Linked DNA regions of Homo sapiens: region 1 is linked to region 2. The links come from fine-mapping of genetic effects on gene expression. A gene starts in region 2. The other region holds a variant in brackets. All regions are shown on one strand. Distances are from middle to middle. Region 1 holds the start of AGT (angiotensinogen). Region 2 holds the start of CAPN9-AS1 (CAPN9 antisense RNA 1).

Region 1 (8,312 bases), 80 kb after region 2:
AAAAAAAAAAAAACATAATGATAATAATAATAATAAAAAATAGAAAGAAATGTGCTGCAATCACAAAATTTCCCAGAACTTTATCTTATATGACCGTTTTCCTCCAGCTCATGGACAGCTATGTCTGAATCAACAGCAGTCCATAGGGCACTGCCCGAGGTATCAGGTGATGTCTAAAAGGATTCAATAGGAGGAGCAGGCATCTGGGAATATACCAAAGGAAATAAAGTCAACACCTAGTAACAATATCTGCACTCCCAAGTTCAATGCAGCATTATTCACAATAGCCAGGATATGGAAACGACTTCTGTCTGTCAACAGATGAATAGATAAAGATTTGGCATACTGTATACACACAATGGGATACTATTCAGCCTTCAAAAAAGCATAAAGGCCAGGCATGGTGGCTCATGTCTTAATCCCAGCACTCCGGGAGGCTGAGGTGGGCAGATCACTTGAGCTCAGGAGTTTGAGACCAGCCTGGGCACCATGGTGAAACCCTGTCTCTACAAAAAAGTACAAAAAAGTTGGCCAGGTGTCATGGCATGCATCTGTAGTCCCAACTACCAGGGAGGCAGAGGTGGGTGGATCACTTAAGCCAGGGAGGTCAAGACTGCAGTGAGCCATGATTGTGCCACTGCACTCCAGCCTGGGTGACAAAGTGAGACCCTGTCTCACAAAAAAAAAAAAAAAAAAAGCGGTGTGGAACTGTGCCGCTTGCTACAACATGGATGACTGGAAGACATTATGCTAAATGAAACAAGGCAGATACAGAAAGGAAAATACTGCATGACCTCATTTATATGTGGAATCTTTTTTTTTTTTAAAGTGAATATACAGAGATAGAGAATACAACAGTGGTTACCAGGAGTTGAGGAGGAGAGCAGGGAGGAGATGTAGGTCAAATGATACAAAGCAGCAGATATATACGATGAACAAGTCTAGAGATCCAGCGTACAACATGAGGACTATACTTAAAAATGTCACATTGCACTTGGGATTTTTGCTAAAAGAGTAGACTTTACGTGTCCTTGCCACCTAAATGAGTAACTGTGAGATGATGGATATGTTAATTTTCTTGACTACCATAATCATTTTACTATCTTCATATCAAAATATCATGCTGTACACCTTATATAAATACAATAAAAATTATTATTAAAAAAGAAAGAACAGGCTGAGAATGGTGGCTTATGCCTGTAATCCCAACACTTTGGGAAGTTGAGGTAGGAGGATCACTTGAGACCAGTAGTTCAAGATCAGCCTGGGCAACATAGCAAGACCCTATCTCTACAAAAAATAAAAATAAAAAAATTAGCCAGATATGGTAGCATGCACCTGTAGTCCTAGTTACTCTGGAGACTGAGGCAGGAGGATTCTTTGAGACATGATCATGCCACTGCACTCCAGTTTGGAGGACAGAGCAAGACCCCAACTCTAAAACAACACACAAAAATACAGCCATTTCTCCTGGGTGAAATGGGGGAGCTCAGACTATTTTGTTTTATTTGTCAGGAGTCTAAAGCCCATGTGAGCCAACTTAAGAAAATTCTGTTTGTATTTGAGTGTTCTTTATTGGAAAGAAATGGACTTTTCCCTAATGAGCCCATTTTACAAATCGAGAGCTCCAAATGCCCGGTTCCAGCCCCCATGATATAGATGGGCAGCAATGAGGACCAGAAATGCTGGGAAGTGTCCTTGTCATGCAAGGAAAACTTGGAACTTCAAGGATCCATCATGGGATGCAGGACAGTAGGCTCCACCCCTCTTCCTGCTTTCCAGTAAATGATGTTCAGGGCTCACATGCCTCTTCCAAGGCATGATGTGGGGTTGCAGTTCTGATCCCAGCAGAGAACAAGGCTCCTGTGAAACAATTAGTTTTGGCTCAGAGGCAAAAAATGGAAACCCCATTCCTGTATTTACCCTTCATTCTTTCCTTACCTCATACAGCTGGTTCCAGGTTTGATTGCATCATATACATAAATAAATAATCTGCTTTCCTGGTTTGGTTTAGTTTTGCTGGAGAGAGGAGTTTATGTGTTCATCCCATGACTAGCTGGGTGGTCAAGAGATTGGAAAGTAGGAGTTCTAGTTTAGACCAAGTCTCATCTCAGAAACCACAGAGTAGAACTGATCCCAAACGTCATCATCCCTGTAGGGAAAAGAAAGAGAGATCAGACTGTTACTGTGTCTATATAGAAAGGGAAGACATAAGAGACTCCATTTTGAAAAAGAGCTATACTTTAAACAATTGCTTTGCTGAGATGTTGTTAATTTGTAGCTTTGCCCCAGCCACTTTGACCCAACCTGGAGCTCACAAAAACATGTGTTGTATAAAATCAAGGTTTAAGGGATCTAGGGCTGTGTCAAAGTGGCTGGGGCAAAGCTACAAATTAACAACATCTCAGCAAAGCAATTGTTTAAAGTACAGCTCTTTTTCAAAATGGAGTCTCTTATGTCTTCCCTTTCTATATAGACACAGTAACAGTCTGATCTCTCTTTTTTTTCCCTACATATCCCAATAGCACCTGCCTGACTAATACATCATGCTCTGCTGACTCCATATGTGGCTGGTTTCCTGGATCCGATTCTGACTGATGGTATCTGTTCTCACGCTGCTAATAAAGACATACCAGAGACTGGGTAATTTATAAAGAAAAAGAGGTTTAATGGACTTATGTGTTCCACGTGGCTGGGGAGGCCTCACAATCATGGTGGAAGGTGAAGGAGGAGCAAAAGCACATCTTACATGGTGGCTGGCAAAAGAGAGAAAGCATGTTCAGGGGAACTCCCCTTTATAAAACCATCAGATCTCATGAGACTTATGCACTATCACAAGAACAGCATCAGAAAGATCCACCCTCATGATTCAATTACCTCCCACTGGGTCCCTCCCATGACACATGGGAATTATGGGAGCTACAATTGGAGATTTGGGTGGGGACACAGCCAAACCATATCAGATGGCTTATTTGGTTTCTATGTAGAACCTCTGCTTTTCATTCAACAGTCTTCATTTAGCCACAGATAAGCTCTGTCCCTAACTTCCACTGATGGAATGTACACATAAGAAACTTCCACTGATGGAATGAACACAGAAGGTGCCTACTGGGAAGAAAACTGGCCTGAATCTGAGCTGGGTCAAATGTCTGCAGTCAGTTTGAATGGCTGCTCCTTATGGGAATAATTTACATTCTCAATAAAATTCTCTAGCAATTTTCTGATTGATTTTAATGAGCTTTAAAGCCTTACGTAGAAGATCCCCCAGCTGATAGTCAGCCTTGGGCATGGATTAAGGGCTTTTAACCAATCTTGCAACAAGTTTAAGCAGATATTCTTTATTGGGTCCAATCTAACCAAAATTATTTTCTTATGTTCTCCCCAGTAACGTGTCATTATTAAGAGAAGTTTGGCTTGCTTAGAGGCCAAATTTAGAGGGTCCTGAAATTTTATTTTCTTTTACACCACTTTCCAGCATGTTACCTGATCAGTTGTTTATTATCTTTGCTGTTGAATGGAGTGATCATTCCAAGGGCCCGAGGCAGGAGGCCCAGGCACAGTGGAAACTCTCCCAAAGACCAGGATCTTTGTTTTGTTCCCTGACATATGCTGAGCACCAGGAATAGTGAGTGAATGAAACAAATTGTGAGGCTTTAAAGAGCCGAAATATTTAAACACTGGGCACAAGGTTGTTGCTTAATCAGTGCTAGATCCTTACCTCCCCCTTGTGTCCAGGTGGACTTGTTACTGCAGTTAAACCACTTGCTGATCCTCAAACAACTAGTTAGTGGCACAGCCAGGCCTAGGACCCCAGTCTCTACTGTTCCAACTAACCCATTCGCAGGCAGGAGCACTTTGAATGGTCTCTTATTTTAAAAAAATTAAATTAAAATTGTCTATTTATTTAGAGACAGAGTCTTACTCTGTAGCCCAGGCTCGAGTGCAGTGGTGCAATCATAGCTCACTGTAACCTCCATCTCCTGGCCTCAAAAAGTGTTTGAATTACAGATGCGAGGCACTGTACCTGGCCCGAATGTTCTGTTCAGACAAAGCCACCTCTAAGTCGCTGTGGGGCCCCAGACAAGTGATTTTTGAGGAGTCCCTATCTATAGGAACAAAGTAATTAAAAAAATGTATTTCAGAATTTACAGGCCCATGTGAGATATGATTTTTTTAAATGAAGATTTAGAGTAATGGGTAAAAAAGAGGTATTTGTGTGTTTGTTGATTGTTCAGTCAGTGAATGTACAGCTTCTGCCTCATATCCAGGCACCATCTCTTCCTGCTCTTTGTTGTTAAATGTTCCATTCCTGGGTAATTTCATGTCTGCCATCGTGGATATGCCGTGGCTCCTTGAACCTGCTTGTGTTGAAGCAGGATCTTCCTTCCTGTCCCTTCAGTGCCCTAATACCATGTATTTAAGGCTGGACACATCACCACTCCCAACCTGCCTCACCCACTGCGTCACTTGTGATCACTGGCTTCTGGCGACTCTCACCAAGGTCTCTGTCATGCCCTGTTATAATGACTACAAAAGCAAGTCTTACCTATAGGAAAATAAGAATTATAACCCTTTTACTGGTCATGTGAAACTTACCATTTGCAATTTGTACAGCATAAACACAGAACAGCACATCTTTCAATGCCTGCATCCTGAAGGCATTTTGTTTGTGTCTTTCAATCTGGCTGTGCTATTGTTGGTGTTTAACAGTCTCCCCAGCTACACTGGAAACTTCCAGAAGGCACTTTTCACTTGCTTGTGTGTTTTCCCCAGTGTCTATTAGAGGCCTTTGCACAGGGTAGGCTCTTTGGAGCAGCTGAAGGTCACACATCCCATGAGCGGGCAGCAGGGTCAGAAGTGGCCCCCGTGTTGCCTAAGCAAGACTCTCCCCTGCCCTCTGCCCTCTGCACCTCCGGCCTGCATGTCCCTGTGGCCTCTTGGGGGTACATCTCCCGGGGCTGGGTCAGAAGGCCTGGGTGGTTGGCCTCAGGCTGTCACACACCTAGGGAGATGCTCCCGTTTCTGGGAACCTTGGCCCCGACTCCTGCAAACTTCGGTAAATGTGTAACTCGACCCTGCACCGGCTCACTCTGTTCAGCAGTGAAACTCTGCATCGATCACTAAGACTTCCTGGAAGAGGTCCCAGCGTGAGTGTCGCTTCTGGCATCTGTCCTTCTGGCCAGCCTGTGGTCTGGCCAAGTGATGTAACCCTCCTCTCCAGCCTGTGCACAGGCAGCCTGGGAACAGCTCCATCCCCACCCCTCAGCTATAAATAGGGC[A/C]TCGTGACCCGGCCGGGGGAAGAAGCTGCCGTTGTTCTGGGTACTACAGCAGAAGGTAAGCCGGGGGCCCCCTCAGCTCCTTCTCGGTCTTGTCTCTCTCAGATGTAACTGAGCTGTGGGCTAGGAGGAAAAGGCCGGGAGGAGGCACGGTGATGACTGAAAAACCTCTCCCCTCTCATAAGACCAGTCATCCGGACGCGGGCTTTCCCCCACTCGGTGCCCACCTGGGGTCTTACAGGAGGAGCTGCTCCTCCTCAGCAATAGGACAAGATGGTCAGGTCTTCCTGCTTCCGCTGAGAAAAGTTAGGGTCCTCAGGAACGGAGCAGACTGGTACAGGAACAGAGTCATCATGGCCAAGAGTCCACCGGGTCCTCTTGCCATCAGGAGGAATAGCAGGGCTTGTGCAGGAATTGGGGCTGGAGGGAAGGGCCGGGCTCGGTCAGTCTCCAGCTGGGATCCCCAGAGTGGTCACCCTACCCCTCCCTCGAGACAGACTGCCTGACTGTGTGTCATCAGGCTGGTCACCATCTCCCTGAACCTCGATTTGCTCACCTATAAAATGGAACTAATAACGATGCCTGGGCTCCCTGTCTCAGGGGCTCTGGTATAGCTGAAGAGAACTAATATAACATGAAAGTGCTTTCTAAGCTTTGGGATAAGCTAAAAGGCAGATTCCAATTTTATTCGAGGGCAGCGTAGATTGGTGCTTCAGCTCGTGGATGACAGAGTCAGGGGGCCTGGTTCTGAGTCCTAGTTCTGTCTCTTCCCAGCTGTGTGACGTTGAACAAGTCACTGGACCTCTCTGTTCCTCTGCAAAACAGCATGAACCAATTCATTAACTACTTCTCCAGGATGCAGTAGGTCCCAGGGACTATCCTAGGAATGTGGGCTGTATTAGTAAACACAACAGCGGGAACCCTGTTCCGGGGCTCACATTCACATCAGAGCAAACAGACAAAGACGCTGGACAGAATAAGTGCATAACTACATGGTACAGAGGGTTATAAGGAGGGAAAAGGGGAGCTGGATGAGAGAGTTGAGAGTGCCCGGTGTGGTGGGGAAAGCTGCAGGGTGAAATACTGCATCAGGGAAACCTCAGGGAAGGTGAGGACTATGGTGAGGTCAGAGGGGTTGATATGAGAACAGTGCCCTGCAAATGGCAGGCACCACAGGAGCATGAGCCGTCATCTTCACCTTTAGCATTCAGCCCGGGAGAAGTAGGGAGACATAGAAGGGGCAGGTGCTGGCCAAGAGGCAGGGGCAGGAGAGGAGAAGGCGGAGGGGCACTCAGGGCGAGGGTGTCAGGCCCGCCACCCCAGAGCACCATTACTCCCAGGACGCGGCTGCGTGCAGACCTGGAACCAGCCTAGGGAGCAGCCGCAGATCACAACTGAGAACAAACGACAGTCTCTGCCTCAAAAATGGCCCATGGAATTGCGTCTCTGGAGACGCTGCCTGAGCAGGAGCAGCACAGTGAGCGGGCTGCATCGACCAGCGCCATCCAAACCCCGAACAGTTGGCGCTTGTCAGGCAGGACTTCCCAGCAGTCGGTTCCCACAGGTTTCCCCTGTTGACCTGATTTGATGTGACTGTCTAGATTAGGTGTGAACTGGTGGCTTAGGCTTCTCTGCACAGAAAGGCCTGCAAGCAGCAGAGAGAGTTTTCTGTTCCATTTTTCCATGTCATGTGGCTCTTCCTGAGAACAGCGGATGGAGTCAAATGCATGGGGAGTGGGGTGAGATGGTAGCTGAGGTCAGAATTTGGCATTTGAATGACTGAAGCAGAACAAAACACACCAGGTACTTCAGCAGCTGCACCGTGTTGAGGGCAGGTGCTGGTTACGGGTCTGGGTGAGGGAAGCCAGCTGCCAATGTAAGAAGAATGACTGGGTATGCTTAGATGAAGCAGAAAAATCTAGGCATCAAGGTGGCCTTGAGTCAGTGATGACACGCTACAGCTCCAAGGAAGCCTGGCCTAGCCCTGGGGGGACAGAAAAGGCCAAGAAGTGACGATATTGCAGTACACCCCCCTCCACAAGAAATGAGTGAGATGTGGTACAAAATGTTAGAATTGAATGAATCAATAGAATAAACGTTCATCCCTTCAATCAAGAAGAGTCAGATGAAATGAATTAGCAGGGCCAGCCCAAGAACCTCTTCTGGGGGTCTCAGGGTAGCTTTCATTTGTAGCAGCTGAGGCTGAAGCCCAGCTGCAAGGCCTTTGAGAGAACGTGGTGCTGGACCCGTGTCTAGGGCAGGGGTTCTAAACCCTGCTTACATATCAGAGTCACCTGAGAATTTTCTATTTTTTTTTTTTTTTTTTTATACGTGGTCCCAGCACAGACTAAGGAATCCAACTATCATTGGGCAAGCCATGCTAGGTATGCATGCCTTTGGGGCTCTGCAGGGGATAGCGCTATGCAGGGATGGTTGAGAGCTGGTTTTGGGGTTGAGACACGTGGGAAATACTTGGACTTTGGGCTGAGCCTGTGGTGCTCAATCCCGGCTGCATGTTGGGACCACAGGGAGATGACAAAACCATCCCCAGCCCTCACCCTAGGGCCCTCGAATGAGCATCTCAGGGGTCTAGGAGGCCTCCACAAAGACCTACTGATTGGCACACACTTGTTTCTCTAGGAAGAGAACTTACAGCTGCAGGCAGGAGCATGTCTTAATCTGCTTGGGCTGCCATAAGTACCACAGACTGGGAGGGTTTAACAACAGAAATGTGTTATCTCACAGTTCTGGAAGCTAGAAGCCTGGGAGCCAGCCATCAGCAGAGTTGGTTTCCTCTGGGTCCTCTATCCTTGGCTTGTAGATGGCCGTCTTCTCTCTGTGTCCCCACATGGTCTTCCCTCTGTGTCCCCACATGGTCTTCCCTCTGTGTGTGTCCATGTCCTCATCTCCTCTTCTCATAAGGACACAGGTCATATTAGATCAGGGCTCACCCTCATGGCCTCATTTTAACTTAATCATCTCTTTAAAGATCCTGTCTCCAAATAATGGTCACATTCTGAGGTCCTGGGGTTGAGG
Region 2 (8,333 bases):
CTCTTTCTGTAAATGGTTAAACTGAGGCACCGAGCAGCCTGCTTAATCGAAATCAGAGCACAAAAGAGGGGAGGAGGTACAATCCTCTAAAACACATACTGTCATCAACCTCTTCATCTTGAAATATTCAATTAAATGTTATCCAAACCCAAAGTTACTAATGAATTTGGAAATGAGCTGGCTGTGACTGTGAGTATGGAAATTGGTGGAGAGGAGAAACTCCAGAGACTGGGGAGGAGCCACAGGCTGCCTGGCTTCAGAGTTGTTAGGTAGAAGAGAAAGCAGACCTGGAAAGAAAGATACAGGGAGGGAAAGAAGGAAAAGGGAGATAAAAATTACAGAACCATTGAAGGAAACTGCTCCACAGTTTCCCCTCTGCCTTTGGGCAGGAGAATGTCTCAAGAGCGTTCCCAAGCTTCATGTGCACAGGAATCAGTGGGGTCCTGTGAAAGACGACTTCCATTCAGCAGGTCTGGGGCAGGGCCTGGCACTCTGCATTTCCAACGCTCTCTCCTAAGTGATGCCTATGCTGCTGCTGGCCCATGGACCTCCCTGTGAGCAGATGGGTCCACTGGGATCCTCTGGGGAGAGGGTGATTGAAACCCCCTGGAATCCTTCTCCCATACCTCTGACACTCAGACCCATGGTCTCCCACCCCCGTCATTGCTACAATGGCCCCGGTAACTGGCCAGTTTTGTACTTATTGGAGTCTGGGGGAGTGTCATGGGAACCACGGGACAACATGAGCAAGGGAGAGTGAGCAAACTGGCAGCTGGAAGGCAGGCAGGCTAAGTTACCCAAATGACAGAAGGAAGAGAAGGACAAGAAGGCAGAGTCTGCTCACTCACTCAAGTCAAGGTGATTAATCTCTCTATGCCTCAGTTTCCACCCTGCAAAATGGGGATACTATTGGTACTTAGCTCACAGAATTATTGTAATGGCTTAATTGATTACTTGATAAATAGTATCTCAAAAATATTAGCTATTTTGTTATAATCACTCCCACAGCTAGATGTCAGCCCTTGCATGAAATCAAGCATTCGGCAAACATCTATGCAGCGTGGACTCTGCTGGGCCCCAGCTGGGTCCCTGAGCAGAGGGTCTGGATTGGCCATACCTCATTTATATTGAGATGAATGAACTCCTTGTTCTTTGTACTGAGAGCCTGGAACACCCCTGATAGGAGAGAAGGGGGAAAGGCATCCTTTTAAAGACAATTCCTTTACCAAGTTTGTTTCCCAGCGACCAAAGGGCCTTCCAGTGGAGCCTGTGGGGAAGCTGCTCCATCTGGTGGTAAACAAGGACTTTCATCAAGGGCGGCGATGGGACTCTCATCAAGGGCGGGCTGAAGGTGAACTTCTCTGAACGGATGGAGGCATCCAGTCCTGTAGCAAGCCAGTGGTCACCTAAGCCAGTCAGCCGGCCAGCAGCTCCTGGAGCCAAAGCAACGCCCCTATCTTAACCTTCTGGGGGGTACAGGGCCCTTGAAATCCATAGGCCCCAGAAAAAAAGCACACGCACGTAAAGTTTTGCATGAATCTGAAAGTTGTTAGTCTCGCCCTTGTAGGAAGGTGCCGTGGGTGCTGTCAGAGGACAGAGTGGCACAGGAGAGCGTGCCAGCACTGAGCTGGGGGCTGGGTCTACCGCATGGTGTAGTGACCTGAGTGCACCTGAGCAAGTCACTGCCCTCTTGGGGCCTCAGCCTCCTCACCTTCAGAAGACGAGGTCGAGCCAATCAGCCCTGGCTTCACTTGAGAATCTCTCGGGTAGCTTTAATAATACAACCCAAAGCGGGGTGGGGGACCATCACTGGACACAAGAAATGGAAGAGACCCAACAACCAAACATGGTGACTGGGTCTTGTGTGGATCCTGAGTCAACCAAGCAACTGTAAAAAGGTGGCCTGGAAGACTTGGGCATGAACCGGGCACTAGAGAATGTTGAGGGTTTGCTGAGAATTTCGTTAGGTGTGCAAATGGTATGAAGATGATGCTAAAAACAAGTCTATCAGCTGGAGATACTCAGATGAATGGACAGAGTTTCTGAGATCTGCTATTAAATTATTTAGGGGGAAAATGTATGTGTTGCGGGAGCACAAGGGAAAAGTTAGCAAGATGGTAATTGTTGAGGTTGGGTGTAAAGGTCTGGAAACACCTGGCGAATTTGCGTAACTCCCAATGCTGTGTGCCACCCCTGAGATTCTAACAGAATTGGTCAACTGTGCAGCCTGGTCATCAGCATTTCTTTAGGCACCCCTGGAGATTGTAATGTACAGCGAAGTTTGAGAAGTGCTGATGTGGAGTGCATGGGAACCTATTATGATTCTTTATATCTAACTGGAGGGTTGACATTCTTACAATAAAAAGTTAAAATAATACTGCAGCAAAGCTCCATCCTTGGTAATTCTAAAAGTTCTCCAGGCAAATCTAATGTGAGGATGCCAGAGTGGATGGTGTTAAGCCTAAAGGGTCTTCACCCTAATATTCCTCTACTATAAGAAAAGCTGAGGCACTCCCACCCCCCGTTCTGGGAAGGATTACACCTGGGTGGTTTAGAAAGGGAAAGAGCAATGGAGAGAAGAGAAACTAGCAAATCTCATTATTTCTAGGGTCAGCTCTGACCACCCTGTAAGTCTAATAACGGATTCTGTTTCAGGAGGGGTCTTTCTAGAATGCACCTCTCACTAGCTACCAGTAACCCCTTAGGGAAAGCCGGCTTCCTGGCTTGATATACTAGACCCTTTGGGGCCTGCTGGTCTGTCTCTGATTTTCTCTCATCATTCCTTAATCAACACATACTCATTGATTGTCCAGAAATTACGGCTCTCCTGGAGCTTAGAGTCTAGAGGGGCTGTGCTTCAGGCAAGTAATTAGTGTTCTATTACCAAAGAAGCAGAGGGAGCTATCATGCTGATAACCAAGGGTCACAGCCCTCACCTTTTTATTTTAATTTAATTTAATTTTATTATTTATTTATTTATTTATTTATTTATTTATTTATTTATTTATATTTTTGAGATGGAGTCTCCCACTGTTGCCCAGGCTGGAGTGCAGTGGCAAACCTCAGCTCACTGCAACCTCCACCTCCCAGGTTCAAGGGGTTCTCCTGCCTCAGCCTCCCGAGTAGCTGGGATTACAGGTGCATACCACCACATTTGACTAATTTTTTGTATTTTTAGTAGAGACAAAGTTTCGCTATGAGCTGGTCTCGAGCTCCTGACCTCACGATCCAACTGCCTCAACCTCCCAAAGTGCTGGGATTACAGGCGTGAGCCACTGTGCCCAGCCCCCTGCCTTTTTTTTTTTTTTAATCAAGTATTCATACCTCGAAGTGGCCTATGGAACATAGATTAGAAAATACCAAGCAGGACAAAATGGAAATGCGGGGCCCCCTGCTCCTAAGTTGTGAAGACTTTCAAGATGGAAACGCCAGAACATTAAACCAAGCACGAGGCACCCTTGAGGGCACGGGTCCTTTGGCACCTGCACACAGGGCATGTCCTCATAGCCACTCCAGTACTGAGTTACAGGCCCTGGACATGCTTCACTCAGCCTCACCTTCAAAACCACCTTTGAGGGGCAGGATGGCTATGACAATAAACTGCAAACACTGAAGCGCACGGGCACATAATCCCTCTCTATTTGTGGTGTAACAAATCTTATTTGAGATAACTGGGTCAATGTCTAGGGCTTACAGGGCGGGGAAGGGGGGAGGAAGGGGGACTGAGACTCTCCTGTTTCTATATGCTATGATGGGATTTGACCTGCAATTGAACCTTTCCTCAAACACAAGGCACAAACCTGCCCCAGCCCATCATCCTCCCACAGAGGCACTGTGAATGTATAAAGAAAGGCGATGCTAAGAAACGTGCTGCAGGGGAGGCTGGCACATTCTGCTCCTTAGCTAACCGCACAGGCCCATGGGTCCACACACATCAGACCATGGCTCTCTGTGGTCTATCTTTGCCATTACTTTAACCAGGCTGTTTCTCATGCGCTCATGGAGGGTGACTGAAGATGCCACCCCGAGGTGCACCCTCAGCCTCGCTGGACACTTACGGCTCGCATTCTCCAGCCGGACCAGGCAGTTGAGGAAGTCATCGAAGTCCAGCTGGAGCTCCTCATCCGCATACCTGAGCACAATCAGCTGCAGGAGGTGGCTGCTCAGCTGAAAGCCTGTGGGGACAAAGGAGGAGACCCAGGACTCGCTGTATCCGAGCCCCGAGGTGAGTCTGCACCTTTGAGGGAGCTCCCAGGCAGCTGAGGAGAGGGCTCAGAAGAGGAAGCCACTGTTTCACTCCTCAAAGCTGGGGTCCCCAGACCCAGTGGGACTGCTGCCCTTGGTGTGAATGCAGCGTGAGAGTGTGAATCTGTGGTGCAGGGGCGAGTGTGCGGGGGACTCTCAGGCGTGCTTTCTGTGTTTAATGGCTTCTGAGTTTAGCGAGTTTGTGATCTTAATTTTGATGCTAACATCACCCATAGAGTCTCGCTGACTTTACAGGAAGCTTTGTTTGGGGGAACTTAACACTGGGTGGTGTCTGAGCCCCAAGTTCATTCCTACACCAGCCTCCCCTCGCGTTCTATGTCTCAGGTCACTTCCAGCTGTGGCCCTAGAAAGTTTCTTGGAGGGGATGCTGCTGCCCACGGAGAATGATACTCTGCCAGGGCCCATTCCTACACATCCACGATGGGGGAAGAATGACAGGCTATAGCCAGGAGGCTTGGATCTGAGCCCTGGCACTGCTCCAGCCGTGGCATATGGGTTCAGTTCTCTGGGCTTTGGTTTCCTCATTGTCAAATGAGGAGTTTAGACAAAGTGAACTTCCTTCTGGATTTGATATTTAGATTTTTTTTTTTGAGATGGAGTTTCACTCTTGTTGCCCAGGCTGGAGTGCAGTGGTGCAATCTCGGCTCAGTGCAACTTCTGCCTTCTGATTTCAAGTGATTCTTCTGCTGCAGCCTCCTGAGTAGCTGGGACTACAGGCACCTGCCACCACAACTGGTTAATTTTGTATTTTTAGTAGAGGCGGGGTTTCATCATGTTGGCCAGGCTGATCTCAAACTCCTGACCTCATGATCCACCCACCTAGGCCTCCCAAAGTGCTAGCATTACAGGTGTGAGCCACCACACCTGGCCAGTGCTTTGATTTCTAATTAGTGCCCTTAGAAGTGATTTCTTTCCCCCTTTCATTTTTGTCTACATGTTCACTTTCTAGGAGGTGTTCACAGGATTGTTCAGAAATCCACCCAGGGTCTTTCTGCTTCTTCCTAATTCCAGCAGAGGAGCAGGCAGGTCAGACACAGAGCACAGAGTCCCTGGAGCCTGCACGGCAGTGCTGGCTGCCAGCCTTGGCCAGAATCCTGATGTTTGGGGCTAGAGGAGGGGGATGAGGGGCGATTCTCCCCACACCACGTCAGGGTAGGAAAGACACAGCCATGCCCCTCCTCTCTGAGTGCTCCCTTTGTCCCCTGCTCAGTTCCTCCTCCTACCATGGAAACAGAGTCATCATCCCCTAAGAAAATCAGGCGCCCCTTCTCAGCCTGGCACTTTGCTCATTTATAAATCATCTGATTTTCTTCTCCCTCACATAGGACCCGAGATGGTCCTGGCTGTGTATACTTCATCCTTTTATCAGGCCTGAGCCTGGACATGTTTCCAGATTTTGCTTTCCCTGGGAGAGAACCACTTTAAAAGGTTCAGGAGGCCCCTATCTGTGAGGTGTGCTTGGTGAGAAGCGCAGGCAGCCCGGCAGGCGGGAGGTCTGCAGAGCGCTCGTGGAAACTACGGTTGTGTGTGCAGGACATGGGACCACAGAGATGCCGACAGCCATCCAGCACCGGACAAGAGTGGGAAATGCCACCTGGAGCCCAGCCTTTGGGTAAGGGAGCAGGGTATAAACTATGATGCAGTCATCCATTTTGGATTCAGAGTCTGATGCTGATAAAACCCGGGACAGGGCCACAGGTGGCAGAGGGACGTGCGGACCCCAAACCATGGGTGCTGCATGCTCTGTCTCATCCACGATAACAACCATCTGAGAGCAGAAATGAGAAGTTTGGAATCACTGCAGCTTGCCACCAAAGAGCCATGTGTTAAGTACTGGGCCAGAAAACATGGTCAGAGGCTATGAGGCCTCCAGAGGGCAGGCCAAGTTCATTTTTAGCAGATACATTTAAAAAGTTTCTACCAATGTTCACAGTGGTTTAAAATGAGGGCCCTGGTGTCAGGAAGTGAGTCCTGGGTCTGAACCCTGGTGCCACCACTCCAAGGGCCGTGACCTTAAGAATCACCAACTGGGCTCAGAGGCCCACCTCCTGGGCAGCAGAGAGAAGACCTGCCATCTGCTCAGGTTGCCCACAGGCAGTACCTGGCATGCAGTCAGCCACCTGTACTCCAGTCTTTTCTTTACCTGCAGCTTTCAGTGCAGTCCGTAGTTCATAGGTAGACATGGTGCCGGACTTGTCAGCATCAAACCGAAGGAAAAGGTTCTAAAGGGTGGAGAGCAGAAGCCTTGAGAAGGAGCGTGCCTGAAAGGCATCGCTGATGGCAGTAAATGGGTGACAGCCAGCCCGGGGGAGCTACCCTCTAGGGGCCGCAGAGGCCACAGTTGGACTGGGCCTTCCAAAAGAAGTCGGTCTCCCTTTTGTCTTCCTTTTCGTCTTGGGTGGAAGCACGGTGGTACTCCCGTAAGCATCGGAATAGCATGATGCTGTTTTCCCTTCTCCCCTGTCCGAATACAATTCCTCTAGCCTATAGCCTGCAGCCTGCTGCACCATTTTAAATCCCCTCTGCTCTAGGTTCACTGGGTCCCCCAGAGGCCAAGCCCTGCTCCAGGTTACATACAATCCACTGCTTCAGCTTGTCCCAGAACACTTTGAATTCATCAAACTCCAGCTTCCCATTGCCGCTGGTCTGTGCCATGTGGGTTAAGGGAGACATGAGCAGTGTTTCAACCTGAGGCTCCTCGTGGGACCTCAGCTCTGGGACTGCAGAGGGGGAGGGCCGATGGGCTGGCCTGGGTGCACAGGTTTGGGGCCCTGGGGAAGTGGTTTTAATGATTAAACCACAAATCTCTGAAGAGGGGAAACGGCAGAAGTGGAATGGGGGTGGTCCCGGAAAGTTCACAAAAACAGAACTCTGTTCCCTTGGATGGGATCCCAAAGTGGCAAGAAGACCCCCAAGTCCCTTCAAAAGCTCCCCACCCCCACCACTAGGCAGTCTTGTGCATCTTGATTCTGATCCAATTTCAGCATGGGGGTCCCCCAGCTTTGGGTTATTTTCTGTGAAGAAGACTATTCTGCTGGCTAAGGATGTCATGTTCTTGGAGAGTCTGCACTATTGAAGATTACTCTACTGTGCTTAAAGCCCAGGATCCATGTCTATTTCTGCTCAAATATTTGGAAGGATACGTCCATCAGGGAAATGATGTTTTTACAGGAGATCAGGCTTAGCTTCTTGAATTTGATGTCCTTTTCTGAAATTGCACATGAAAGCTGAATTCAGTTGACCCGATAAGATAAACCTATGTACCCATCTGCTGAAAGCCCAATAATGTGGCTAAATCCAGGGCTGTTGGGGGCTGTGATGTGGCTACTCTCTTATGATGCTGGTAGGAGTAGAAGTTAACATGACCTTTCAGAAGGAAAATTGGCTAAATGTGAAAAAAGCAATAAAAGTGGGAATACGCCTTCATCCATTTATTCTAGTTCTAAGAACCCCGAGCAAAGAATAACATATGAAGATTTTTGTCATCATATTATTTATAGTGGCAAAAATTTGGAAGTGAAATAATGACCAATAGAGAGGCATGGTCAATACCTTAGGCTATGTCTATATAATGAAGTATTATACGACCCTTAGGAATCATGTTTTTGCAGCATATTTAATGGCAGGATTTAAATTTGTTGGAGAAATTTGTACTCCCATACTGCTGCTGGTGAAAATGTGAAATAGTCACTTTAGAAAACAGTTGGATAGTTTTTAAAAACATTAAACATAGAGTTAAGCAATCCTCTTAACTAAACATATAATTAAGAGGATGGTTATGCCACCATGTAACCATAGACTGTTGCATTGTGATGGAACCATCCTCATAACTATATACCCAGGAGAAGTAAAAACACATGCCCACCCAAAAAACTTGTATAGGAGTGTTTACAGTTGCATTATTCATAATGACCAAAAACCGGTAACAACCCACGTGGCCACCAATAGATGAATGAATAAACAGAACAGGGCCCATCCATACGATGGAATGTTGTCTGGCTGTAAGAAGGAATGAGACATTGATACATGCTACAGCATGGATGGACCTGGAAAACATCACACCATGT

Evidence for each region.
Region 1: its variant is fine-mapped to the expression of CAPN9-AS1 in lung (TOPMed, PIP above 0.99).

Annotation. Positions count from the first base shown.
Region 1 is chr1:230,711,108-230,719,419 of GRCh38, reverse strand. It overlaps AGT (angiotensinogen), which reads left to right and starts at 5,298. Exons shown (of 5, transcript NM_001384479.1): 1 at 5,298-5,334. The variant A/C (reference allele first, on the strand shown) is at 5,280.
Region 2 is chr1:230,791,005-230,799,337 of GRCh38, reverse strand. It overlaps CAPN9-AS1 (CAPN9 antisense RNA 1), which reads left to right and starts at 4,127. Exons shown (of 2, transcript XR_001738518.2): 1 at 4,127-4,225. CAPN9 (calpain 9) reads right to left here. Exons shown (of 20, transcript NM_006615.3): 15 at 7,410-7,474; 16 at 6,844-6,912; 17 at 6,410-6,488; 18 at 4,059-4,175; 19 at 1,118-1,176.